7 linked regions of the Homo sapiens genome follow. The protein of the gene in region 1 purifies or fractionates together with the protein of each later gene. This does not show direct contact. Each region holds a gene or a part of one and is shown in the gene's direction. Other genes may lie near its edges. The genes, in order: SYN1, VPS54, ERGIC1, DGCR8, ATG4A, ERI1 and ANTXR1.

Region 1 (4,023 bases):
TGCTTGGACTACCTCATTTGCTCATATGCAAACATTATTTGGTACCTACTGTGTGTGCACCATGGGATGGGCCTGCCTCTGTGGAAAGTTCTTGGGTGCAGGGGGAGACAGCCATGGGCACTGATGACATCAGGTAGTTATCGTGAGTTTTGGCGGTGTCCAGAGCAAAGGGATGGTGGCGTATATACCAAGTGTGTTCTGGTGTGGGGGTGGACACGCACCAGGGCTAGGGCTGCAGAGAATGTCTGTGTTGCAGATCTAGGTTTCTCCATGATCATCGGTGGGAATGTGTTTTGTCTGCAAGTGTATGCTCATATGAGTTTCCCTGGGTCTCTGTGTGTCAGTGTGTTACCTGTGTGTGTGGGGGTATGGGTGTATGCATGCATGTATGTAACATGCCCATGTGTGTTACTCTGGACTTGTATGTCTGTATGTATACCTAGATTGGCGTGTGTTCTGTCTGTACATGCCCTCGTATGTTTCCTCACTTTTGTGTGTGTTTATATGTGTGTCATTTCTTGTGTGCCTCCAGGCCCCCCTTGCCACCTTGGGCAAGGGTGTGTACACCACCCAAGTGTCCACCTCCGCTTGTCTGATGCTGTCTGTGACGCCCCCGCTCTCTGCCTAGCTGAGCCTGTGTGGATGTGGGAGACTAATCTCCCCGCGGGCACTGCGTGTGACCTCACCCCCCTCTGTGAGGGGGTTATTTCTCTACTTTCGTGTCTCTGAGTGTGCTTCCAGTGCCCCCCTCCCCCCAAAAAATGCCTTCTGAGTTGAATATCAACACTACAAACCGAGTATCTGCAGAGGGCCCTGCGTATGAGTGCAAGTGGGTTTTAGGACCAGGATGAGGCGGGGTGGGGGTGCCTACCTGACGACCGACCCCGACCCACTGGACAAGCACCCAACCCCCATTCCCCAAATTGCGCATCCCCTATCAGAGAGGGGGAGGGGAAACAGGATGCGGCGAGGCGCGTGCGCACTGCCAGCTTCAGCACCGCGGACAGTGCCTTCGCCCCCGCCTGGCGGCGCGCGCCACCGCCGCCTCAGCACTGAAGGCGCGCTGACGTCACTCGCCGGTCCCCCGCAAACTCCCCTTCCCGGCCACCTTGGTCGCGTCCGCGCCGCCGCCGGCCCAGCCGGACCGCACCACGCGAGGCGCGAGATAGGGGGGCACGGGCGCGACCATCTGCGCTGCGGCGCCGGCGACTCAGCGCTGCCTCAGTCTGCGGTGGGCAGCGGAGGAGTCGTGTCGTGCCTGAGAGCGCAGCTGTGCTCCTGGGCACCGCGCAGTCCGCCCCCGCGGCTCCTGGCCAGACCACCCCTAGGACCCCCTGCCCCAAGTCGCAGCCATGAACTACCTGCGGCGCCGCCTGTCGGACAGCAACTTTATGGCCAATCTGCCAAATGGGTACATGACAGACCTGCAGCGTCCGCAGCCGCCCCCACCGCCGCCCGGTGCCCACAGCCCCGGAGCCACGCCCGGTCCCGGGACCGCCACTGCCGAGAGGTCCTCCGGGGTCGCCCCAGCGGCCTCTCCGGCCGCCCCTAGCCCCGGGTCCTCGGGGGGCGGTGGCTTCTTCTCGTCGCTGTCCAACGCGGTCAAGCAGACCACGGCGGCGGCAGCTGCCACCTTCAGCGAGCAGGTGGGCGGCGGCTCTGGGGGCGCAGGCCGCGGGGGAGCCGCCTCCAGGGTGCTGCTGGTCATCGACGAGCCGCACACCGACTGGTAAGCCACTGCCGCGGACGTCTCCCGTGGGCCTGGGTCCCCAGATCGTTCTTCTGCGAATGAGCAATTATCGAGCGCCGCTTGTGTGCCTGACACCTGGCCCTCTCACCTAAATCTTTTTCCTTTAAATTATTAAGCTGGATGCTTCCTCTGTGCCCCGCCCTTGTCGCCCCCCTCCGCCCCTTAAACCTTGATGGATCCAGGGAGCAATTATCAGGCACCTGCTGCGTACCTGTTCCCTACTACCCCTCCCCCAAAAGTCTTTGGCTTCAATATATCCTATGAGCCTTCGAAAACCGAACGTGTCCTTCCTACCCTCCCCAACCCTTGCCCCATAGGCCTTGTCCTCTAATGGATCTTGTGAGCACTTATCTAGTACCTGCAGTATGCCTCATCCAAGAGCCCTTCCCCAAGGCCTTTGATTTCAATGAGGTTTGTGAGCATTCTTTGAGAGCCTGATACTGTCCTGTTCTCCTCAACCCTTGCCCTGAGGCCTTCTCTAATGGGTCTTGTGAGCATGTGTCCAGTCTATGCTATGTGTCCCACCCCAGCTCCGTCCTTAAAGCCCTTTTAAACTATTTAGTAAACATTGAGTACCTGCTGTGTATCCCACCCCAGCTTCTCTCCAAAAGCTTTGCCTTTCATGGATCCTGTGAGTTTTGATTGGATGCCTTCTCTGTGCCCCAACTCCAAGCCCTCTCTCTGAGGGCCTTTTCTCCAAAGGATCTAGGAAGCATTTGTTAAGTGCCTGATACGTGCCGCACCCCCAAACCCCTTCTCAAACAAATCATTTTCCTCCAGTGAGTTCCATGAGCAGTTTTGAACCTTCTTTGTGTGACTCATCTTCAGACCGTCTCCTCAAAGACCTTTCCCTACAGTGGATCTAGAAAACATTTATTGAGTGCCTCTTGTATCCCCCGTTCTCCAGCTACTTCTTCAAAGACCTTTCCTTTGGTGGATCCATCTAGCATTTATCAACTGCCTGCAGTGTGAGCCTTCTCTAAAAGTTCTTTCCTCCAGTGTATTCAGCAAGCATGCATTGACTGGTGCCTGCTGTATACCCCACCCTCAAACCCTTTCTGCAATACCCTTTCCTCCAGTGGCTTCAGTCTGCATGTATTGAGCACTTTCTGCATGACCCAACCTTAGACCTCTCCATAAAGGCCTGTGCCTCCAGTTAATACAGTGCTCAGATATCTGGCACTTGCTGTGTGTACCATTCCAGTCACTCTTTCCAAAGACCTTTTCTTTTAATCACTCCTTGGAGTATTTATGGAGCACCTGCTGTGTACCTGATTGTGTGCCTTCTTCACAAAAGCCTTTTCTCCTATGGATGAAGAATCGAGCTCCCATAGATCAACTTTCTGCACTCCCATTTCCCCTCCCCATAGGACTTTTCCTTCAGGGATGCAGTGAGCCTTGATCAGGTGACTATATGTCCATCCCCAGCCCCACTCCCCAAAGGCCTTTTCTTCTAATGGATCCAGTGAGCATTTATTCCTTGTCTGTCATGTGCTCCATTTTAATCATCCTCCCCCAAAGACCTTTTCTTCCAATGGCTCCCCTGAGCATTTATGGAGTGTCTTCTGTGTGTTCTGTATATTCACACCTCCTCCCCAGAATTGTTTTCTTAACAGTAGATCCAGTGAGCACATATGCAGGACCTGTTGTTTTGGGGAGTACATTCTTCTTCCTTACCCCTAGGAGAGCCTGTTCCAATCACAAGGCCTCTCCCAAGGTCCTTTCCTGTGATAAATCCAGAGCTGAGTTTATAATGATCACCCCTTTCCCACTCCCTTCAGTACCCCTAGGATTCCCTCTACCAACTTTAATTCATACCCCCAAAGGGCTTTTAGTCTATTTAAGTAACACTTACTTAAGTAAACACTTTTACTTAATAGTTTTACTATTGACTTAATTTACTAAATAAATTTAGTAAATTTACTAAATTTACTATTTACTTAATAGTTTTACTATTTAAGTAAACACTTATTGAGCACTTACTGTATAAGTCACTTTCAACTTCCTCTTTCCAAGTCTCTGGAAATCCCTGACCCTGCCTCAAGAGCTCTCTCTCTAGGGGTCTACTTCAGCCTAAATGTATTGAGTACCAGCTGTTTACTGGTTAGATTACCTCTCCCCCAGGAGCCTTTACCGAGTAGCCTTTCTCTCCATTCAGAGCAATTTATTCATTCTGCAGATATTTATTGCATCCTTTCCATGAAAGTGTGGGAGGCATTTATTATGCACCATTATATACTAGGAATAACCCTTCTTCAGCTCCCCTTCCTTCT
Region 2 (3,500 bases), on another chromosome or scaffold:
TTTACTTTCTAGCAAAATTCTTTATTTTATTATGGCCCTGTTAAACAGTCCACAGATTGGCAGCAGCATATAAATCACATTCTGGGTAGCACTGTCCTAAAGTTATCTATTCTCCATTTACTATTCTGGGAATTGAGTCCATGTTACCTTGCAATTTACCCTAGTATATTTGTGCCCATTTTGCTTTTTTAGTGAATAAATGAACAGCCATATTGAAGATGAAAGAGCAAAAGGGCATAAACTCAAGATTTAAACTGTGGAAAAATTTCTTGTTTGTAACCTATTTAGATATTGTAAGATTATTGAAGGAGCATTATTGAAGATATGAATGATACTCTGTGTTTCCTTAGGGAAACAGATTTGATGACCAAATAGTCTCTTCTAATCTTATGAGACCTAAATGTTGAAAGTTCATTAACCCTTTGAAACTATGAATTATCCCAAGACATTCAGAGATAATGCCCGAAGTCTGAGCTGTGGGTTAAAAAATCTCAAAGTAAAAAAATGGGTGAATAATGGAAAGATAATATAGCCAAAAAAGGCATATGCAGTTAGAAAGGAAGAAAAGGCAAAACAAGTTTTAGAAGTCCATATTTGAAATTTAGAAAGCATTTTAAATATATATTACCATAAGAATTAATCTTGGTAATGCTACTAAAAAAATATATATGAGCTAATTGTTTAAGGTATTTGTCGAACTTTTAAGAGGAAAATTCATTGGAAATAAACTGAATTTTACAAATTGATAAAAGAATCACTTTTGAAATGTAAAATAAGCAGCCTGAAAAAAATCCAAATGAATTTTAGTACCTTATCTATAATTTGTGACTGAACCATCAGTCTATCTTGGATTATTCAGCATTTTGAGGCAGAATGGTATAATAGAAACAGCTTCAGTTTTTCAGTCAGAGATATACCAACATTTTAGTTTTGCTACTTAGTAACTACATGACTGTGTTTCCTCATCTGTAAAATGATAATAATACTACCTATATTTCAAGATTGTTAAAATTAGAAAAATTAGATGTGTATAAAATACCTGTGCCTAATCCATAGGAGGAGGTCAATAAATGGAAGGTGTAATCATCTATTTAGTCAGATAAATGATGTGCAATGATATTGGGGGCTAAGGAGATCATTCTCTTTCTCTCAGATCTTAGAACATCTGAAACTGGAATTGTAATTTGAGATGTCTGTGGGGTACTCTTTTAGAAAGCAGTTGGTGTTTGGAAGGTGATAATGACAGGAACAGAGGAGGAAAGTAAATGACCTTGTACTCTTTTGTCTTACATTTATATCTTTGGGGTGTACCCTTTATCTTCCTTCCATTTTGTTGTGCCCAATTTCAAGGATCTCACAATCAAACAATTCACACAATGGAATTTAAAGTATATGTAGAAATCTTTTATCATTGTCATAAAGTATTTGGATAATCAAGGAAGGTATGCTCATAGTACTTCATATTTTTTTTCCTTCTCTTTTAAGCTGAGCCATTATCTGGATATTGTGGAAGTAAACATTGCTCACCAGATCTCTCTACGTTCAGAAGCATTTTTTCATGCAATGACCTCTCAACACGAGTTGCAGGACTACCTCAGGAAAACTTCCCAGGCTGTAAAAATGCTTCGAGATAAAATTGCACAGATTGATAAAGTAATGTGTGAAGGATCACTCCACATTTTAAGACTGGCACTTACCAGAAATAATTGTGTTAAAGTATACAATAAGCTGAAGTTAATGGCCACTGTACACCAGACTCAGCCTACAGTACAGGTGTTATTATCTACTTCTGAATTTGTTGGAGCATTGGACTTAATAGCAACAACACAAGAGGTTCTACAGCAGGAACTTCAGGGCATTCACAGTTTCCGGTATGTTCATTAAGTAAGCCACTAGAAATAATGTTAGAAATTTTTAAAGGATAAAATTGAGCATGTAATGTTAAAAGTGTGAATATATTCAAAGTTAAATGGATATTTTTTCTTCCAGATTGATCATTTGTTTAATAATGTTATTCTGATATTGTAGTATTAGCAAAACAAAAACCATAAGGAATAATATTTTCAGAGACATTTGGATGGAGAAGCAAAATTAAAATTTCTAGGAGATGAGATAAATGCAAGGCCAGTCACAACATTAACATTTTGAAAGTGTTGAAATAGCTTTGTGTCACAATGGTAGGTCAAGGTGGAGAGAATACCAGCATATTTAAAATTAAGTTTGTGTTGAAAGCCTTTAATAGATTTAAAATTGAATAATTATTAAAATTCATTTCTGATTTGCAGTCTGTTTATCAAATTGCAAAAGAAATCCACATGGTGATAGAAAAGACCCAATTTCTCCTGTTATTATTTTGAAAATACCTTAGGTTTTAAATATTTTATATGAAATCATTCCAAAGTGTTTATTTTATAGACTAATTGCAAGCCATCAAAATTTCGTTCCATTAAGCAGGCTTGCAGTATCCTTGTAGAAGTTCATATCTGCTGGGAAAACCATCCAAACCACGTACTAGTAAGTGACTATAAAGTTTTATGGAAGATGTGCTCTGTAACTTAATCCATTATGGAAAAGTTAGCTTCAAAATACATTTATTTTAATTGAATTATAAATCTTATTGACTGAAGATATGTAATTGGAATGTTTAGGATATATTTTTAAAGCTGAAACCAAATTTAATTAGATGAACAATTGATTGATTCATTCAGTTAAGGTATGGCTGTTGAGCACCTATTACATGTCAAGTACCAGACAGAATGAATACTGGGAATATAGTCATGAATGAAGTAGAGATGTTCAGTGCTCTAAAAGTCTCTACAATTTATTTGGCATGGGGAAGGAAGCAGACAAATTACTGCATAGTTATGATATAGTGTAATATAGTATGATGAATGGAAAGATTGCTGTGGAGCTCTGACCTTAGGGGTGGAACCTAATCCAGACTTGGATGGTTAAGAAAACGTTCTGAGTCACAAACTTCTTTGAGAATCCATTGAAAGGTACTGTTGGACCATCTTTCCACAAAAATATACCTGTACATAAAATTTTGCAATCAATTTTGGGTGATTCATGTTTTTTTGAAGTCTACTTTGAATTCCCCAGCATGGAACCCAGGGCAACTAAATTATTTTTAATTTTTCCTTCACCTTTGAAATTATAAGGATTTATCTTTGAATTTGTATGTCGTATGTATTTTTTCAATAAATGTCAATTTTGTCATTGCCTTAGAGAAATGGATTTCTATAATGACAGAAGCTGTGTTTTTAACTTATCACTTACTGTATAATATCATGAGTGTTGATGAATATTGGGAGCCAGTATCCCATAGATAGTACAGAGCTGAGAAATAGAATCAAAGATTGAATGCCGCCTTGGCAAACACAAATTCTCAAATTGTTCTAATTTTTACCTCAAAGTTCATGCAGTTTACTTTTACTTTCCTTGACTCATAAGTTTATGGTCAATACTCATGAAAAGTAATTTTAAGAAGAGGGTTGGAT
Region 3 (3,500 bases), on another chromosome or scaffold:
GTGGCGAAAGCTATCTCAGGCTGGCTCAAGTGGAGAGAAAAAAGCATGAGATCAAGCAATGGACAGCTGGGGAAGGGCTGGCTTTTATTTCCTCAGCTCCCAAGCTCAGTCCCTGGCACTGGGCCGTTGCCTTTGTAGGTCCCTCTGTGCCCAGGTCTTGCTATGGGGGTTGTTTCTTGGCATTAAGGTCTCAGTTCAAACGCCACCGTCTCCAAGAAGCCCTCACTGGTCACCCTATCTAAAGTAACCCTCACTCCTAAGGACAAACCTGTTTTTTCTTCCTAGCATAGACCACTCTCTGAAATCACCTTGTTCTCCCAGTCATCTGCTGCCCTTGGCTGTTGCGCCAGCTATAACATGGCACTCTGCCTTGCCCACTGCTTTGTCCCCAGGACCCAGCCCTGTACCCAGGGTATAGTAGGTATATGATCGATGATAAGAGGCCTGGAGGCCACTATGGAAGAGCTCCTGCCAGATGGTGGTGGAGTGCGGTCATGAGGACCTCGGCCTCCAGTGTCCCCCTCCACTCTTTCCCAGCCCTGTGGTCTTGGGAAAGTCATTTAACTCTGCTAAGCCTCAGTTTCTGCATGTGTAAAGTGGGAAGAATCCTCTCCACCTTAAGCCTTGCTATGAGGATTAATGAGATGCGTGTACAGAGTTTAGTACACGGCCTGCCACATTGTGAGTGCTCAATAAATGTTGGCCGTTCTCTTCATTATCGTCAGCAGCTAACTTCAGGAACGAGATCCCCTAGGGCAGAATCTAAGGAGAAACTTTCCTATATCAAATTGTATCTTGTATTGTGGTACTGAATTGTTTAACTGGTCCTGAATGATATAACTGGAATGAAACCAGCTTGTCATGTATATGTATACACATAATATGGGCTGTCATATATATATATGTGTGTGTGTGTGTGTGTATATAAGTATACACACACATACATATATATGGGCTGCTGGTTTTAAGAATGCAGATTCTGGGCCCCACTCCAGTGGCGGGATAGGGATGAAACAAGATTGGCCATACGCTGGTAATTGCTGAAGTTGGGAAATGGGTACGTGGGAGTCCATTATACAATTCCCTATGTTTTAGGTTTGAATTTTTCTGTAAGAAGATTTTGCGGGTAGGGGAGGAGGAGTGAGCTTGAAGGGAATGTGGGCTGGCCTAGACCAGGTTGGAGCCAGCAGTCTCTAGGAATGGTCAGCTCACAAGGAATCCACATGGGTGTAATTAACTGCAGTGTCTCCAGTGGGCATTTGGCAAATTGTATCAAAGGCCTTAAAAATGGTCATTGCCTTTGAGTCATCAATTGTACTCATAGGAGAGTAAGCTAAGGAAATAATTAAGAGAGTGTACAAAAATCTAGGAAAATAATGTTCATTAGGTCATTGTTTATAAAATTGAAAATGAGGAACCACGTCAGTGTCCAGCCATAGGGGGTTGACTGAGCATGGTAACTGCCCAAGATGAGCGAGGTGTGTCAGGACCTTACTGGCAGTCAGGCAGCAAAGATTTATTGAGCACCTACTATATGCTGGGCATTGGGCTAGGTTCTGGGGATAGAGAGATGAATAAAACAAACTCTGCAGAGCTTATGTTCTGTGTCTTAGACCTGAAAAGTTGATCATGATGTTCAGTTCTTAGAAAAAGATGGCTGGGCGCGGTGGCTAACGCCTGTAATCCCAGCACTTTGGGAGGCCAAGTCGGGTGGATCACGAGGTCAGGAGTTCAAGACCAGCCTGGCCAAGATGGTGAAACCCCCATCTCTACTAAAAATACAAAAAATTAGCCAGGCGTGGTGGCAGGCGCCTGTAGTCCCAGCTACTCAGGAGGCTGAGGAAGGAGAATCACTTGAACCCAGAGGGTGGAGGTTGCAGTGAGCCGAGATCGTGCCACTGCACTCCAGCCTGGGTGACAGAGTGAAACTCCGTTTCAAAAAAAAAAAAAAAGATACGGTATGGTCCTATTTTAGGAAAATACAAATATATGTATAAACATGTCTGGCAGTTTATATGTGAGACTGTGAACCATAGTTTTCTGAGGATGGTGAATTTATGGTGATTTTTTGTTTTGTCCTTGGTGATCACCTGTGTTTTGTACAATTTTTTTTTTTTTGAGATGGAGTCTCGCTCTGTTGCCCAGGCTGGAGTGCAGTGGCAGCTCACTGCAACCTCCACCTCCCGGGTTCAAGCGATTCTCCTGCCTCAGCCTCCCTAGTAGCCGGGACTACAGGTGTGTGCCACCAGGCTTGGCTAATTTTTGTATTTTTAGTAGAGATGGGGTTTCACCATGTTGGCCAGGTTGGTCTTGAACTCCTCACCTCAAGTGATCCTCCCACCTCGGCCTCCCTAAGTGCTGGGATTACAGGCGTGAGCCACCACATCCGGCCTTGTACAAATTTTAACAAGAAATATTACAGGGGTGATTTTGATAAGGCATTCACTTTTTCATTCCTTCAAGTTTTTAACCTAGGGCAATGGGCGTTTGGACACCACTATCAAGCGTGGTCTTGGGCTCTTGTTTTAAAAATGCAAATTCTGAGCTCCACCCTTGACCCATTTGGCGGGATGCTCCTGGAAAGAGGTCCAGGTGTCTTTTTATTCCAAATGATTCGACTGCTTCTGACATCTGAGAACCATTACAGGGTTGAACAGAGGGATGTTGGAGTCTTCATGGACTGGGCTCTGCGGCTGCAGGACTTTTCTCGGGTTTTCAGAGGAACCTACTCAAAACAATTCAAGAAGCACTTCCTTTGCTTACTGAGATATGGCTTTGGCAGGAAGGGGCAGGGAGGGAGTGTCAGGGCAGTGAATGCTGTCTGCATTCCCAGCCTTCTTACAGAAGAGGACTGACTCGACTCTGCGACCAGGCTTAGAACCCACAGGCCTAAATTTCTGTGTTATTTTAGCTCTGTAGTCCGTGACCCGAGATTGTGGAAGGCCCATGAGCTTCCTGTAAGCATCCCAGAAGGCCCAGGAGAGTTCATACCTTTCCTGAGTGATATTTGGCAGCTCTGGGCCAGCATTCTATCAGCCCAGCATTGGATTCCAGTTACCTCACGCTTATCAGCAGCTGATTCATCTGTGCTTTCATTCATGCCCCTGTCCAATCATCCTTCCATCCGTTCATTCATTCAGTAAGCATTTGCCACGGTCCACTTGGTACCAGGCCCTGCACGGGGCTCTGGGGACACAGAGTTGAGTAAGGCTCCATCCCTGCCTTCAGCAGCTCCCCCATCCAGGAAGAACTGATCTGCCGTTGATTTCTTTCCCCATTCTCAGTTCATCAGTGCTTCATTGGTGCAGTTTTTCTGGTTGATAGGCTCTTTTCTTTTTAATACTGAAACCTAGTTTGTTTTAAAAGTAAAACTATTCAGACAATGTCAGAGGATGTACAATGAAATGGGATCTTTCTCAAATCCTGCCTTCCTCCCCAGAAGCTAAAGCTGCCCGTGGTTCCTTGGGCATCTTTCCAGATAATTCTCCTATATATTTACA
Region 4 (3,500 bases), on another chromosome or scaffold:
TGAATACTTCTTGGCATGTGACAGGGTGCATGCTTTTCTTAGTTGTTAGCGGTCCATCTCCCCCACTAAAATGTGAGCTCTGTAGGGCAGGGTTTTGTCCACCTTGTGTCTGTAGCATCTAGGATGGTGTGTGTGTGTGTGATGAATGGAGAAAGCTTATAGAGGGGAGGAAGGAACTTGCCCAGGACTGCCCACCACTGAGGTCTGGGGCTGGGCAGGTTTCCTGCTTTCCTAAGGAGCTCACTCACTTGTAAGGCACCAGGCTTTCCTGCTGTGCATTTCTTCAGTGCCGCCGCTTGGCCCCATTAGCACCTTTGCTTGGAACGTCTACTCTAGCTGCTTCTTCGCCTTCTGTGGTAGCAGGCTTCCCCATTCCGTCCCACTGTTGGTCTCTAATCCCCTGCTCCTTGTGGCTTCTTCATGTAGCTTTTTGTGTCCCAGAATCATGGATTGACTCACCAGGGTCTCTATGGGACTGCCAGGTTCTGAGGTGTGTGGCCCTGGTCTTCCTTGTAATCTGTGGCACTGGGCGCATTGACCCCTCGGTCTGTTTTCTCTAATGGTCTTTCTTGGTTGCCAGGAGACTGACCTCACCCCACTTAGTGTTCCTCATGCCTGCCTGGTTGCTGCCCACAGCCTCTTGAGCGTCTTCAGCACTTTATAGTCAGTTGTTAGCTCTGTGCTGTGTTTCCTGGATCCTCAGCACCTTTGATGGACACATCTTTGGGAACATACGGTGTGAAATTCCCATTAGATTCAGAAATGTTAGGACATCTTAGAATCCAGGAAATGGGGTGACAGTGCAGTGGTCATTGACCTGCCAGTGTGTCCAGGCCCTGTGACCTTGTCTCTTGTCCATATAGTGCGTTCCTCGGAGTAGATGGCCAGTGGATAGTTGTTAAATGTATTGATTAAACCTAAACTAGTCTCTGGTTTTCATGTTGTGTCCCCTTCGAAGTACATCCACCATGCCTTGTCCCTTGTTAAATGTGTGATGTCTGCATCTCCTGTTCTTTCCGGGAATCTTGGGAGGATGTTAGGTCATGCAGTGCGGTTTGCATGTGTGCATCTTTACTGGTATGCACGCATGTGCATGCATGCGTGTTCCTGTGCACGTTGTGGGAGTGTGCATGTGCGTGTGTCTGCATGTGTTCCTTCTGCTCTGATGCAGGGTTTTCTGGCTGCCCCCTCAGACCCATCTTCCCTGCTTCATGTTGTCCCTTTCTTCATGCTTCCTCTGTAGTAAGGCTTCCTAGAGTTGCATCCTTAACCCTCATCTCTGGGTGGCCTTCCTCCTGTGGGTTTGGCGACTACCTCCTCAGTGCGTCCTGGCCTTCCGTATCTGGACCAGTCATGGCTCCAGAGTTGTGGCCTCGGCACCTTCAGAGCCTGCCTGGAGGTCCCCTCTGTTCTCCTCGCCAGGCTCCTGCCTGCATGCTGGAATTTGGGTGTCCTTCCTTGTCTTTAGTTCCCTCTTTTCTCTGCTATCCACCTCCGTTGGGTCAACAAGTGCGGTCAGTTCTGTGACACTGTTCTTGGCCCATTGCCAGGGCCTCTTTCACACCTTTGTCCTCTGGCCTGGAGGACTGTCCCCGTGCCTTGGATGCAGTTGCTTCTGCCTGGCACAGCTGTGGGTCTCCCCTCTCAAGTAGGAACCTACTTGTGGCATGAGAGTCGCTTCACCTTCAGTGGCTCCTTATTGTCCCCAGGGCGGAACGGGCTGCAGGTGGCACCCAGGCCTCTCTGTGCCTCGGCTCCAGCTGTCTCTTGTGGCTCCCCACCCCAAATCCTGGCAGGTCCCTTCCCCACAGCCACCCACCCCTCTCCTCCATCGGGAACAGAACTATGCTGCCACCTCTGGTGACCTCAGCACGCTGCATCACTGTCCCCGTCCACGTGCTACCCTGTGGGCCCAGGAGAGCCCTGGGGTCCCTGGGTAGCAGAGCGCCTGGCCATGCCTCTGAGGCCCCTAGTGCCGCAGAGTTGAGCTGAGGGTCTCGCGCTCGCCCTCTGACTGACCCAGCCCTTGCAGGTGAGTGGATTGCTGTGCTCTGGTGGCCTGAGGGAGGCCACGCGCCTTCTGTGTGTTCCAGAAAGGGTGCCTCCCACTGCATGCTTGCTTATCTGAGTTAGAAGAATGCTGTGGTGGAGTTTAGTGTAAATTTTTAAAATATTTTTTGAGCCTTATGATTATATAGTTTTTGTGTTTCTGAAGTAGGAATTAAAGTGGGCATTAACAAAATATTTAACTTTGGACTTAAGTTATAATTCAGGTTCTGAAGAATAAAAGTAAGGTTAGTTTGTTTTGATGCCTAAAAAGTCCTCTTAGGGAATATTATTTTGAAGCCCTTTACTATGCTGTTAATAGTGCTTGGCTTTTAACTTGGTACCAGGGAATTGGAAGGTTTCTGTCATTTTGTGACGATATTTTTAAATTTCTTTGCAGGTAGAAGAAGAAAGGTGCCACTCCGGCATGAAGACAGACTCGCTTAGTCGCCAGTCACTTAAGCTGAGTGCATTGTGATTTCCAATAATTGAGGCAGTGGTTCTAAAAGCTGTCTACATTAATGAAAAGAGCAATGTGGCCAGCTTGACTAAGCCGCCAGCGCACAGCGCGGCAGGACGCGCCCGGGTCTCAGCGGACTTGTGCATGTTAGCTGTGTAGATTTATGTGAGGGCTTGTAAAACTCTGGTCTTGTAAACTAGTCTTAAGCGCTTTTAATATGGAGACAGATGAGAGCCCCTCTCCGCTCCCGTGTGGGCCCGCAGGAGAAGCGGTGATGGAGAGCCGAGCTCGCCCCTTCCAAGCGCTGCCCCGTGAGCAGTCTCCACCACCTCCCCTGCAAACGTCCAGTGGTGCAGAGGTAATGGACGTTGGCTCTGGTGGTGATGGACAGTCCGAACTCCCTGCTGAGGACCCCTTCAACTTCTACGGAGCTTCTCTTCTCTCCAAAGGATCCTTCTCTAAGGGCCGCCTCCTCATAGACCCGAACTGTAGTGGCCACAGCCCGCGCACCGCCCGGCACGCACCTGCGGTCCGGAAGTTCTCCCCTGACCTTAAGTTGCTTAAGGATGTAAAGATTAGCGTGAGCTTTACCGAGAGCTGCAGGAGTAAGGACAGGAAGGTGCTGTACACAGGAGCAGAGCGCGACGTGCGGGCGGAGTGCGGTCTGCTCCTTAGCCCTGTCAGTGGGGACGTGCATGCTTGTCCCTTTGGCGGGAGTGTTGGTGACGGGGTAGGCATAGGGGGTGAGAGTGCTGATAAGAAGGATGAGGAGAATGAGCTGGATCAGGAAAAGAGAGTGGAGTATGCAGTGCTCGATGAGTTAGAAGATTTTACTGACAATTTGGAGCTAGATGAAGAAGGAGCAGGCGGGTTCACGGCTAAAGCAATCGTTCAGAGAGACAGAGTGGATGAAGAGGCCTTGAATTTCCCCTACGAGGTATGTTGGCAGCCCCTCCTCTAGAGGGCTCTTAGCAAAACCCAAAGAGAGATTTGG
Region 5 (3,500 bases), about 60 Mb from region 1:
GCTGTTATAATAAAGCACTTTATATTTACTCCCTGAGTTTTAGCTTCCACACTCTTGTTTTAAGTTGTTTGCTTTATAAGTGGTTTCTTTTTTTAAAAGGGTTTTATTATGAATAAGAGACTCGCAATAATTTGCAAAGATAGTACAGAAAGGCCCCATATAATCTTCATCTGAGTTACTTCAATCATTGCATTTTACATAATTATAATACAATATCAAAACCAGGAAATTGATACTGGAATGATACGTGTGTATAATTCTATGTTATTTTATGATGTGTAGATTTGTTTAACCATTATCGCAATCAAGAAATATTCCATCTCTCCTGTGCTACCTCTTTATAGTCACACCCACCACCTACCCCCACCATTGATAACCCCTGAAAAATACTAATTTGTTCTCCTTTTCTATAACTGTCATTTTAAGAATTTTATATATAATTAAAATGATTTAATTTTTAGAATCATAAAGTATGTGACCTTTTCCACTATTTTTCACTCAGCATAATACATTTGAGACTCATTCAAATTGGTATCAATAGTTCATTCCCTCTTATTGCTGAGAAATATTACACGACATGGAGGTACCACAGTTTTTTTAACCATTCATCTATTAAGGGACATTTTTAAATGTCCAGTTTTTGGCTATTACGAAGAGAACTCTTATTAACATTGAGTACAGTGTTTTGTGTAGATGGAAATTTTCATCTCTCTGAGATAAATGCCCAGGAGAGCAATTACAAGGTGGGACGGTAAATATATGTTTAATTTTAAAAGAATCTGACAAACTAGTTTTCCAAAGTGACTGTACCATTTTGTATTCTCACCAGCAATGGTATGAGAGATCCAGTATCTCCACATCCTTTCCAGCATTTGGTATTCTCACTATTTTTTTTTTAAGTTTTAGCCATTGTGATAAGTGTGTAGTGATATATTACTGATTTAATTTGCATTTATCTGATGGCTAATAAAGTTCAACATCTTTTCATGTGTTTATTTGTCATCCCCATATCTTCTTCATTTAAATATCTCTTTATATCTTTGGCCCATTTTCTAATTGTATTGTATTGTTTGTTTTACTGTTGAGTTTTCAGAGTGCTTTATGTATTCTAGATACCAGTTCTTTGTCAGATATGTAGCTTGCAAATATTCTCTTCCAGTCTGTGGCTTGTCTTTTCATCTTAATAGGATTTTCCACAGAGAAAGAGCTTTTAATTTTGATGACATTCAACTTATTGATTTTTTTCCCTATTATAGATTGTGCTTTTGTTGTTACATCTAAGAAGTCTTCACCAAGTCGTAGGTCTCAAATATTTTCTCCTAGATTTTCTTCTGAAAATGTTATAGTTTTACATTTTACATTCAAGTCCATGATCCATTTTAAGTTAATATTTGGCATAAAATGTGAAGTTTAGGTCAAGGTTAATTTTTTTGGATTATTGATATCTAGTTACTTCAGCTCCATTGAATTGCTTTTGCACTGTTGTAAAATATAAGTATGCCGTACTTGTGTATATCTATTTCTGAGTTTTCTAATCTGATTCATTGATCTACGTATGTGTCCCTCTGCCATACCACACAGTGTTGAATACTGTAGCTCTATAATAAATCTTAAAATTTGATAGAGTGATTCCTCCTAGTTTATTGTTTTCAATATTGCCTGTTCCTTTAACTTTCCCTATAAATTTTAGAATAAACTTGCCTATATCTGAAAAAAGTTAGCTGAGATATTGATAGGAATTGTATTAGACCTGTGTATCAGTTTGGGGAAAACTGACATCTTTACTATGCTGAGTCTTCCAATCCATGAGCACCATATGTCTCTCCCTTTATTTAGATCTTCTTTTATTTATTTTATCAGCACTGTTCAATTTTCAGCATAGAAATCTTGTATGTTTTGTTAGAATTATACATAACCATTTCATTTTTGGAGTGACTATTAATGGTATTTTATTTTGAATTTTGGTTTCCATGTATTCATTGCTAGTATATAGAAATATAAATGATTTTTGTATGATAGTTTTGCATATTGAAACCTTGCTGAATTCACTGATTAGTTCTAGGGGGTTAAAAGGTATTTTTCTAATTTTTTTTCTTTTGTTTTCATTGTTTTTTAGGACTTTCTATGTAGACCATCTTGTCATCTGCAGAGAGGGACAGTGATATTTCTTCCTTTCCACTCTGTGTTTTATGTTGAATAGCAGTGGTGAGAGCTAAATTCTTGTCTTGTTCCCAGTCTTAGGGAAGAAGAGGTCAGTCTTTCAGCATCAACTATAATGTAGTTTTTTTTGAAGTTTAGATCGTTCCCTCTTGATTTCTAGTTGTCTGAGTGTTTTTATCATGAATAACTATTGAATTTTGCCAAATACTTTTTGCATCAATTGATATGATCTTGTGATTTTTCTTCTTCAGTTTGCTAATGCAGTGGATTACACTAATTTATTTTCAAATGTTGAGCTAGCCTTGCATCCTTGGATAAAACACATTTGGATGCGATGTATAATTTATATGTTATATTTGCTCATATTTGCTGGGGATATTTGCTTCTATTCATGAATGATATTGGCTTGCAATTTAATTTTTTGGTACTGTCTTTGTCTGATTTTGGTATCAGTGCAATATTGGCCTTATAATAAGAGTTGGGAAGTAGTCCCTCCTCTTCTATTTTCTAGAAGACATTGTGTAATATGAGTGTTAATTCTTCTTTAAGTATTTGGTAGAATGCTGCAGTGAAATCATTCAGGCCCAGATGGTTTCAATGAAGAATTTTTTTTTTTGAGTTTTAAAATTATATGTTCAATTTTCTTAATAGTTACCAAGCTATTCAAATTATCTAATTTCTATTGAGTTGTGGTGGTTTGTGCTTTTCAAGGAATTTATCCAGCTTATCAAAATTATCAACTTTATACATGCATATTTGTTTGTAGTAATCCCTTTTGGTGTCTGCAAGGTCTATAATAATATCTCCTGTTTCATTCCTGATATTAATGATTTGTGGCCTATCTTTTTTATTTGTCAGTTTTGCTTAAGGTTTGTGAATTTTATGAGGCTTTTCAGAGAACTACCTCTTTGTTTCATTGATGTTGTCTGTTGATTTTGAGTTTTCAATTTCATTGACTTCTGCTCTTTATCTCCTTACTTCTGCTTGCTTTCAGTTTAATTTGCTCTTACTTTTCTAGTTCCTTAGGGTGGGAAATTAGATTATTAATTTCAGACATTTCTTCTTCCCTAAGTTAAGCCTTTAGTGCAATGAATTTCCATCTCAGCACTGCTTTAGCTGCATGTCATGTATTTTTTTTATCACAGTAAAAAACCATAGCAGGAGATTTAGTTCTTAACAAACTTTAAAGTGTACAGTACAATATTGTTAACTATAAGCACAATGTTGTACAGCAGATCTCTAGAAATTTTTCATCTTGAATGACTGAAACTCTATGCTTATTGAGCAGCAACTCCCCATTTCCCACCCCCCACCAACCCCCTGGCAACTACTATTTTCCT
Region 6 (3,500 bases), on another chromosome or scaffold:
GGAGGGGGAGGGTATTTCAGGCAAAAAAATAACAGAAACTTTTCTAATTCCAGTTTGTATGGTTTCTGCAACATGATCTTGCCTTTTCTTCACCTGTTGTGCAACCAAAGTTATAGGACATAAAAGTGTATTGAGAACATGCCTTTTATTTTTTATTTTTTTGAGACAGAGTCTTGCTCTGTCGCCAGGCTGGAGTGCAGTGGTGTGATCTCGGCTCACTGCAACCTCCGACTCCTGGATTCAAGCGATTCTCGTGCCTCAGCCTCCTGAGTAGCTCGGATTACAGGCATGCACCACCATGCCTGGCTAATTTTTGTATTTTTAGTGAAGATAGGGTTTCTCCATGTTGCCCAGGCTGGTCTCGAGCTCCAGCTCAAGTGATTCACCCCCCTCCCAAAGTGCTGAGATTATAGACGTGAGCCATCTGGCTGGTTGAGGCCATGGCTTATAGTATATTTTGTCTGCAGTACACAGTATACCTCAGGAACATGTGACAATGATAGTGAAATGATAGGTTGTAGCCAAGTTGTGAAGGAACTCTATGCTGAAGTCTGCATTTTACCTCGTAAGCAGAAGGGAGCCACTGAAGATATTTAAGCAGAAAATTGGTGTTAGTGCTCAGTTCTCAAGTAAAGTAAAGAATGAATCGAAGTGTTGTGGTAATGGAGGCATTTGCCATGCTCAACGAAGCTAATGAGAGCCATAGCAGAAAGAATTAGAGAGAATCATATTCTGAATATGTTTCTGAGTTAGAATTGACAAACATGGTGAATATTTGGAAGAGCAAAGGAGATGTTAAAGATAGCAGGTTTCTATCCAGAGCAACTAGTTGTATGTTTGTCCTGCCATTAGCTTTGCAGACAACTCTGGTAAATGTAGTCTCTCCCCCTATCACACCTCCCACCCCACAACAATAACAACCAATAAAAAGATAAAAAAAGAAAGTAATCCAAAGCTGTCACATGACACAGAGGTCACTCACAGTGCCTTAATATGAAAGAGGTTAAGGATTTTCTCCGTAGGTCTTGATAATTTTGAAAATCTCAAGCAAAGAAACAATATTAAGACATTTCATCTTAAAAAAGCTAACTGGTTGATTATTACTATTTTCATGGGTAGGATTTTTTTCAGTGCTTAATTGTATTTTAGAAAGGAAAATAAAAGACTAAAAAGGTTTTTTTTAAATAGTCATTAATCAGTTAACATGATACTTTACTTGGCACTACACATTAATTATAATTTAGATCTTTTTATTTTTACTTCCATTTCATATTTGCAGGCCAATATAGGATTCATTTATATAACGCTGAAGGAAGCCTGAATGCTGGTTGCAACTTAATTTTTTGGAAAAATACATATTGTTTAAAGAATGAAGTCACCTGATCACTGTTATCTGTTAGGATGACCTTTCTCTCCTCCCCACTACTCCATTTGTGGAATGTATATTTTAAAGCTACCTATAATATTGAAATCCCCTAAATCATATTCTACCCATGATAAATTAAGAAACTTATTTCTAGTTAAGAACCTACTAGTGTGATAATGCTCCTTTGGACAGTTTACTTAGAGTGTATTCTAATTGAGTTTTCCTTGTTAAGTAGCCAACAGACATTCACCTTTATATGCTAGGCTCATAATGCTTTCATATTCATATGAATCTTTTGAGTTGACTAACCTACAAAAGCCAAAAGAAAGGAAAGAGATAATACGATATTTTCAACTTAACCCAAATTTTTATATTCTTAAGTTTATATTTTGGCCAGTGGAATAATTTTATATTAATTTCAATGTTTGTATCATATATGTTATCTTAGTATATAAGGCAGTATGACGACTGTGTTGGTAGTATATGCTGACAGTGTTTATGGTTTGAAGTACCAGTATATGTTGGAGAAAATACTGTTATATACTACTAAAATAAAAAAAGACTTGTGAAGGAAAATGTTAATGTTGTAATAAACATATTATTTTAATTAGTTCTTTGCTAACTTAGCTTTGAGTCTTGCTTTTCTTACATTTATTTTAGCTAGCATTTGCTAAATTTCGCTGTGATTGTCAGTGTTCAGCCCAGTGCCAGCAGGTGAGAGTTTTGATTCTTGACTGTAGAATTTACCTAAGTGTAACTAGTCTTCTTCTTCTACTTAGAGGAGTAAAGGATGTTCTAAAGAAGAGACTGAAAAACTATTATAAGAAGCAGAAGCTGATGCTGAAAGAGAGCAATTTTGCTGACAGTTATTATGACTACATTTGTATTATTGACTTTGAAGCCACTTGTGAAGAAGGAAACCCACCTGAGTTTGTACATGAAATAATTGAATTTCCGGTTGTTTTACTGAATACGCATACTTTAGAAATAGTAAGTGAATTTTTGTATTTTAATTGTATTTCTAGCAGCAACTATTCTGGTGTTTACTGGTTATGTGGAGGACCTCATTTGCTTTTTAGCCAGAATTAGACTTCTAAAGTAAGTTTTTTCTTTGCCATGAACTTTATATCAGCTTGATTAATAGAAAAGCTGTAACAAAGCAATTTTAGAGACTACTGCTTTCTTTTTGCAGTAGCGGAAGTTAAAATGTTGTTTTCCATTTGCTTAGAACATCTGGGTGTGGACATCAGAATCTCCTGGTAAGTAAAAAAATAAAGAAAACACTAATGATACTGATGCCTGGCCCTAGTCCCAGAGATTCTAATTTAGTTCTCTGATAGGGCCTCTGACATCAGCATTTTTTTGAAGCTTTTCAGTTGGTTTTAATATGCGGTCAGGCTTGATAACCACCACTGTGGCCTAGTGTGAACTCTGATCTCTAAGAATGATAATTTACAAAAATGACTTTTGAACCTCTCTCTCTGGTGGAAAGTTTAAGGGTGAAATGACTCATATAACCCTGGTTTCTAAGCCAAATAATATGTGTGCTTTAGATACTTGTCAGTGCTTTATTAGTTAAGAAAGTCTAGTAGGAATTCCCTAAAATAATACTGTTTACCTTATAAAATCTGAGCAAGAATATCCTAACATCTCAACTTTCCAAAAGTCACTTCTGTGATATCCTCAGTTGCTACCAACCCACTTGGGAGTAAGTATAAAAAGGTTTTGTGAATTAAAATGCATAGGTTATTAGTGCTATTCAAAATCTCTTTTAGTTATAGTCTTAGCCTATTTCTATAATTTTCTTATCCAAAGCAGATTGAAGGTCAGTAAATTAGAAGGAAAAATGGCAGCTATGAAGGCAAATAATCTTGCATAAGTCACTAGATTTTACTTCTCTCTTACTCAAGGACGTTACTGTAGCAGTTCTCCCTCATTTGGACATTATGATTTATTGCTTTTGTCTATATTGCTCCCACTACACAAAAACATGTTATATTTTTCACACTGTGTAAAAACTTCATCCCACTTCACTGCCAGCTACTGCATTTCTTTGTTCCTCTTTTTGGGAAAATTCTTCACTTAAGTTATAGGTACTTATATGTTTATCTCTTTCCTTTTCTTCCATTCTCTC
Region 7 (3,500 bases), on another chromosome or scaffold:
ATTCTAAAGACTGGGAATACAATTGTAAGCATGACAAACAAAAGCCTCTGTGGAACGTACGTTCTAGTGTGGAGAGACAGATATTAAGTAAATATCAAGCCATGATGAGATCCTTAACTAAAAATAAAACAGATTGATGGAATGAAGAGACCGCGGCTACTTTAGAAGAAATTTCCAGGGGAGGTTTCTCTGAGGAGTAATATGAAAATCCATCCATCAGAAGATGGGGTGGGGGAAGTGCTTTCCTAGACAAGGGGACAAGGGGACACTGTGCACAGGCCCCAAGACAGGAATTTGCCCAGAGTATTTGAGAGAGGGCAGGCAGGCTGGAGCTCAGGAGGAGGGGGGCACATGATAAGGAAGAAGGCCAGAAAGGTGAGCAAAGGCCAGAACACACAGGGCAGAGCTGGCGTTTGCACTTACTCTGCTGCTTTGTGGAGAACAGATCATAGGTGAGTCTTAGGGCAGCAGGAGGCCAGTTGGGAAGCTACCACAGTGTCCATGAGCAAGTGCATGGGGGCTTGGGCCCAGGATAGTGGTGGTGGGGATGGAGAAGTCAACAGATTTTAGATCTTTAAGTAGTAGCAACAGAACTAGCTGGCAAGTTGGGACAAGTTGGGGAGAGGCAGTAAAGAAGAGAGAGGCAGTGGGGAAGACTACAGGAGGAGCATGTTTAGGGTAGGGAAATCAGGACATCTCTGCTGTGGTGTTGTTGAGATGTTTTTTAGCCCCCAAATAATGTGAATGTCAAGTGAGCAGTTGGAGTTCAGAAGCATCAGGGCTGAAGATGTAAAGTCACAAGTCATTAGCATGTAGGTGGGGTTAGATGCGATTCCCACAAAGGAGTAGAGCTGTAGAAGAGAACAAGAGAACAGGACTGTACCACAAACTTACCAGGTAGCACTGCTTACATTCCCACTCTACAGATAAGGAAAACAAGCTTAGGTGGTTTCAGTGATTGGCCCAAGGTTCTAGGAAACAGTAGCACTGGGATTGCACCCAGGCAGTCTGACTCTATAAGCTCTACTCCTAATCACTTGGCTGTAGTAGGCAGGTCCACACAGCAGTGCTGTTTTGCTTCCTTCATGTGCCACAATTTCTCTGCAGGAAGAAGATGATGATGGTCTGCCTAAGAAAAAGTGGCCAACGGTAGACGCCTCTTATTATGGTGGGAGAGGCGTTGGAGGCATTAAAAGAATGGAGGTAAGAGGACAGCTTCATATACACTTATCTATGTGCTGACTACTCCCATCGAGGTACCAGCCGGGCCTGACCCTGCTTAGCCTCTAGATATCAGGCATGCCCAGGGCAGTATGGCCGTAGACCACACTGATGACTCAATGTCAGAAACCCAAAGCAAATTGCTGAAAACCTCCTTGAGGTCTGGTGGGGATATGGATTGTAAGGCAGACGGATGGAGAGATAGGAGGGACAGCCTTTCACTGTGCGTTTCCATGTCTTGCCCACCGTGAGTCAGAGCAGGTCACACATCAGCTCAAACGTCCTCGTGATTTCTTTTCTCACTGGAATAAAATCCAAAGTTCGTACCTGAACCTGCAAGGTCTTTGCATGTGCTGTCCCCGCTGCCTGGACAATTCCTCCCTAAATATCCACCCATGTGGCTCAGCTCTCTGCTCCTTTGGTCCTCCCCTTTTCTCTTTTTCCACAGTTTCCCTCTTCCCTGGCCCTCAAAACCCAAAGGAATCCAGGGTTGGGTAGCATTCACATTGCAACTCATGCATGTATTTGTCATTCTCATTCTCGAGGGGCAGCATATTTTGTCATTTCATTTCATTGTATTTTGTTTATTTTAGGTTCGTTGGGGAGAAAAGGGCTCCACAGAAGAAGGTGCTAAGTTGGAAAAGGCAAAGAATGCAAGAGTCAAGATGCCGGAGCAGGAATATGAATTCCCTGAGCCGCGAAATCTCAACAACAATATGCGTCGGCCTTCTTCCCCCCGGAAGTGGTACTCTCCAATCAAGGTGTGTCTCTTTACTCAAAAAATCTATCATCAGTCCTGATAAAACACTTACATAGTGAAGAATCAAAATCTTTCCACATGATAAAATCCCAACCTAAAACCCAGCTTATCACAGGGGAACAATTATCTAAAATTATGGACTTGAAAGTACTAGTAATTACTTTGTCAATTTCCACATAATCTGGGTTGAAAACTAGGCTTTTTAAAAATCACCGTGGTGCTCACTTCTGCAGCACATATAGTAAAACTGGAACAATATAGAGAAGATTAGCATGACCCCTGGGCAAGGATGACATGCAAATTCGTGAAGTGTTCCATATTAAAAAAAAAAAAAAAATCACCATGGCAAGGTACTGGAAAAAGCATGGACTGTGAGTCAAGTAACTTGGGTAGTAACCCCAGAGAGTGACTATAAATTTCCATAGCATCTCATAACTTCACTTAGCAGACAATCTACTATCTAAGAAAAATGGCAGCCTTCTCCTTAATGCTAATCTCTACTCCTTTTGCCATAATATAAGCCCATTCCCTTTTATTTGCGCCTCCTGCCAGTGTATCAGGGCCCACCAGCAAATCTCACTGGTCATGGATCTAGGACTCACTCTTTCTGGTTGTAAGCAAATCTTTTTTCTCCACCATCTGTCTTTCCCCCACACCTCCAGATCTTAAAATCCTCTTTGGTTTATTGGGAAGTGTAAACCGTTGGAGGCAGTTAATGTTTCCTAAAGGCCTCTTTTTTATTTTCTATTTATTTATTTTTTGAGACAGGTTCTCACTCTGTCACCCAGGCTGGAGTGCAGTTGTGTGATCTCTGCTCACTGCAACCTCGACCTCCCAGGCTCAAGCCATCCTCCCACCTCAACCCCCAAGTAGCTGGGACTACGGGCACGCACCACCACACCCAGCTAATTTTTGTTTTTTTTTTTTTTTTTTTTTTTTTGAGGGACGGATTTCACTATGTTGCCCAGGCCTGTCTTGCACTCCTGATAAAGCAGTCTGCCCACCTCGGCCTCCCAAAGTGCTAAGATTACAGGCATGGGCCACCATGCCCAGCCTGAAGGCCTCTTTTCTATTCTTCTTGGTCCAAATGGCTTTGAATTCACATGATTCAGTTAACACCTTCAATCTTTAGCCATGCCCATAAACATCTGCACTATGCCACTTGTCAGAGAGCACTGGAAAATTATAGCTGAAAAGACTCTAGACATAATCTGTCCCCACTCTCTGATTTCATACTGAGATAGGCAAAGTCCTTGTTCTGCTGAGGTCTGGAAAACAAGGCCCCCAACTCAGGGCTACAGACTCCAGTTTCAAGCTGCAAACAGAACCGAACCAACTCCAAAGCCTCAAGTCAAAGACTCAATAGAGCCAGCTCCCATCACCATCCATACACATACACACACTCACACACACACACACACACAGCCTTACCCCCCTTCCAATAGCAACAAAGATTATTTTCATCATTCGCTGAGTTAATTTGCTAATTTTGGATCAGGGCTTCTCCAACAAATCAAAA

Evidence for each region.
Region 2: the proteins of SYN1 (region 1) and VPS54 purify together in Homo sapiens (affinity purification with mass spectrometry; one large-scale study listed by BioGRID and IntAct). This does not show direct contact.
Region 3: the proteins of SYN1 (region 1) and ERGIC1 purify together in Homo sapiens (affinity purification with mass spectrometry; one large-scale study listed by BioGRID and IntAct). This does not show direct contact.
Region 4: the proteins of SYN1 (region 1) and DGCR8 purify together in Homo sapiens (affinity purification with mass spectrometry; one large-scale study listed by BioGRID and IntAct). This does not show direct contact.
Region 5: the proteins of SYN1 (region 1) and ATG4A purify together in Homo sapiens (affinity purification with mass spectrometry; one large-scale study listed by BioGRID and IntAct). This does not show direct contact.
Region 6: the proteins of SYN1 (region 1) and ERI1 purify together in Homo sapiens (affinity purification with mass spectrometry; one large-scale study listed by BioGRID and IntAct). This does not show direct contact.
Region 7: the proteins of SYN1 (region 1) and ANTXR1 purify together in Homo sapiens (affinity purification with mass spectrometry; one large-scale study listed by BioGRID and IntAct). This does not show direct contact.

What each region holds. Positions count from the first base shown.
Region 1 is NC_000023.11:47,617,058-47,621,080, reverse strand, and holds the start of SYN1 (synapsin-1), read left to right. Parts: upstream 1-1,223; 5' UTR 1,224-1,352; coding exon 1,353-1,729; intron 1,730-4,023. UniProt on the Homo sapiens protein: Neuronal phosphoprotein that coats synaptic vesicles, and binds to the cytoskeleton. Acts as a regulator of synaptic vesicles trafficking, involved in the control of neurotransmitter release at the pre-synaptic terminal.
Region 2 is NC_000002.12:63,960,429-63,963,928, reverse strand, and holds part of VPS54 (vacuolar protein sorting-associated protein 54), read left to right. Parts: intron 1-1,485; coding exon 1,486-1,871; intron 1,872-3,500. UniProt on the Homo sapiens protein: Acts as a component of the GARP complex that is involved in retrograde transport from early and late endosomes to the trans-Golgi network (TGN).
Region 3 is NC_000005.10:172,928,251-172,931,750, forward strand, and holds part of ERGIC1 (endoplasmic reticulum-Golgi intermediate compartment protein 1), read left to right. Parts: intron 1-3,500. UniProt on the Homo sapiens protein: Possible role in transport between endoplasmic reticulum and Golgi.
Region 4 is NC_000022.11:20,083,241-20,086,740, forward strand, and holds part of DGCR8 (microprocessor complex subunit DGCR8), read left to right. Parts: exon of another isoform or gene 1-2,032; intron 2,033-2,446; 5' UTR 2,447-2,723; coding exon 2,724-3,443; intron 3,444-3,500.
Region 5 is NC_000023.11:108,098,278-108,101,777, forward strand, and holds part of ATG4A (cysteine protease ATG4A), read left to right. Parts: intron 1-3,500. UniProt on the Homo sapiens protein: Cysteine protease that plays a key role in autophagy by mediating both proteolytic activation and delipidation of ATG8 family proteins.
Region 6 is NC_000008.11:9,009,397-9,012,896, forward strand, and holds part of ERI1 (3'-5' exoribonuclease 1), read left to right. Parts: intron 1-2,145; coding exon 2,146-2,356; intron 2,357-3,500. UniProt on the Homo sapiens protein: RNA exonuclease that binds to the 3'-end of histone mRNAs and degrades them, suggesting that it plays an essential role in histone mRNA decay after replication.
Region 7 is NC_000002.12:69,180,679-69,184,178, forward strand, and holds part of ANTXR1 (anthrax toxin receptor 1 isoform 1 precursor), read left to right. Parts: intron 1-1,107; coding exon 1,108-1,203; intron 1,204-1,814; coding exon 1,815-1,982; intron 1,983-3,500. UniProt on the Homo sapiens protein: Plays a role in cell attachment and migration. Interacts with extracellular matrix proteins and with the actin cytoskeleton and thereby plays an important role in normal extracellular matrix (ECM) homeostasis.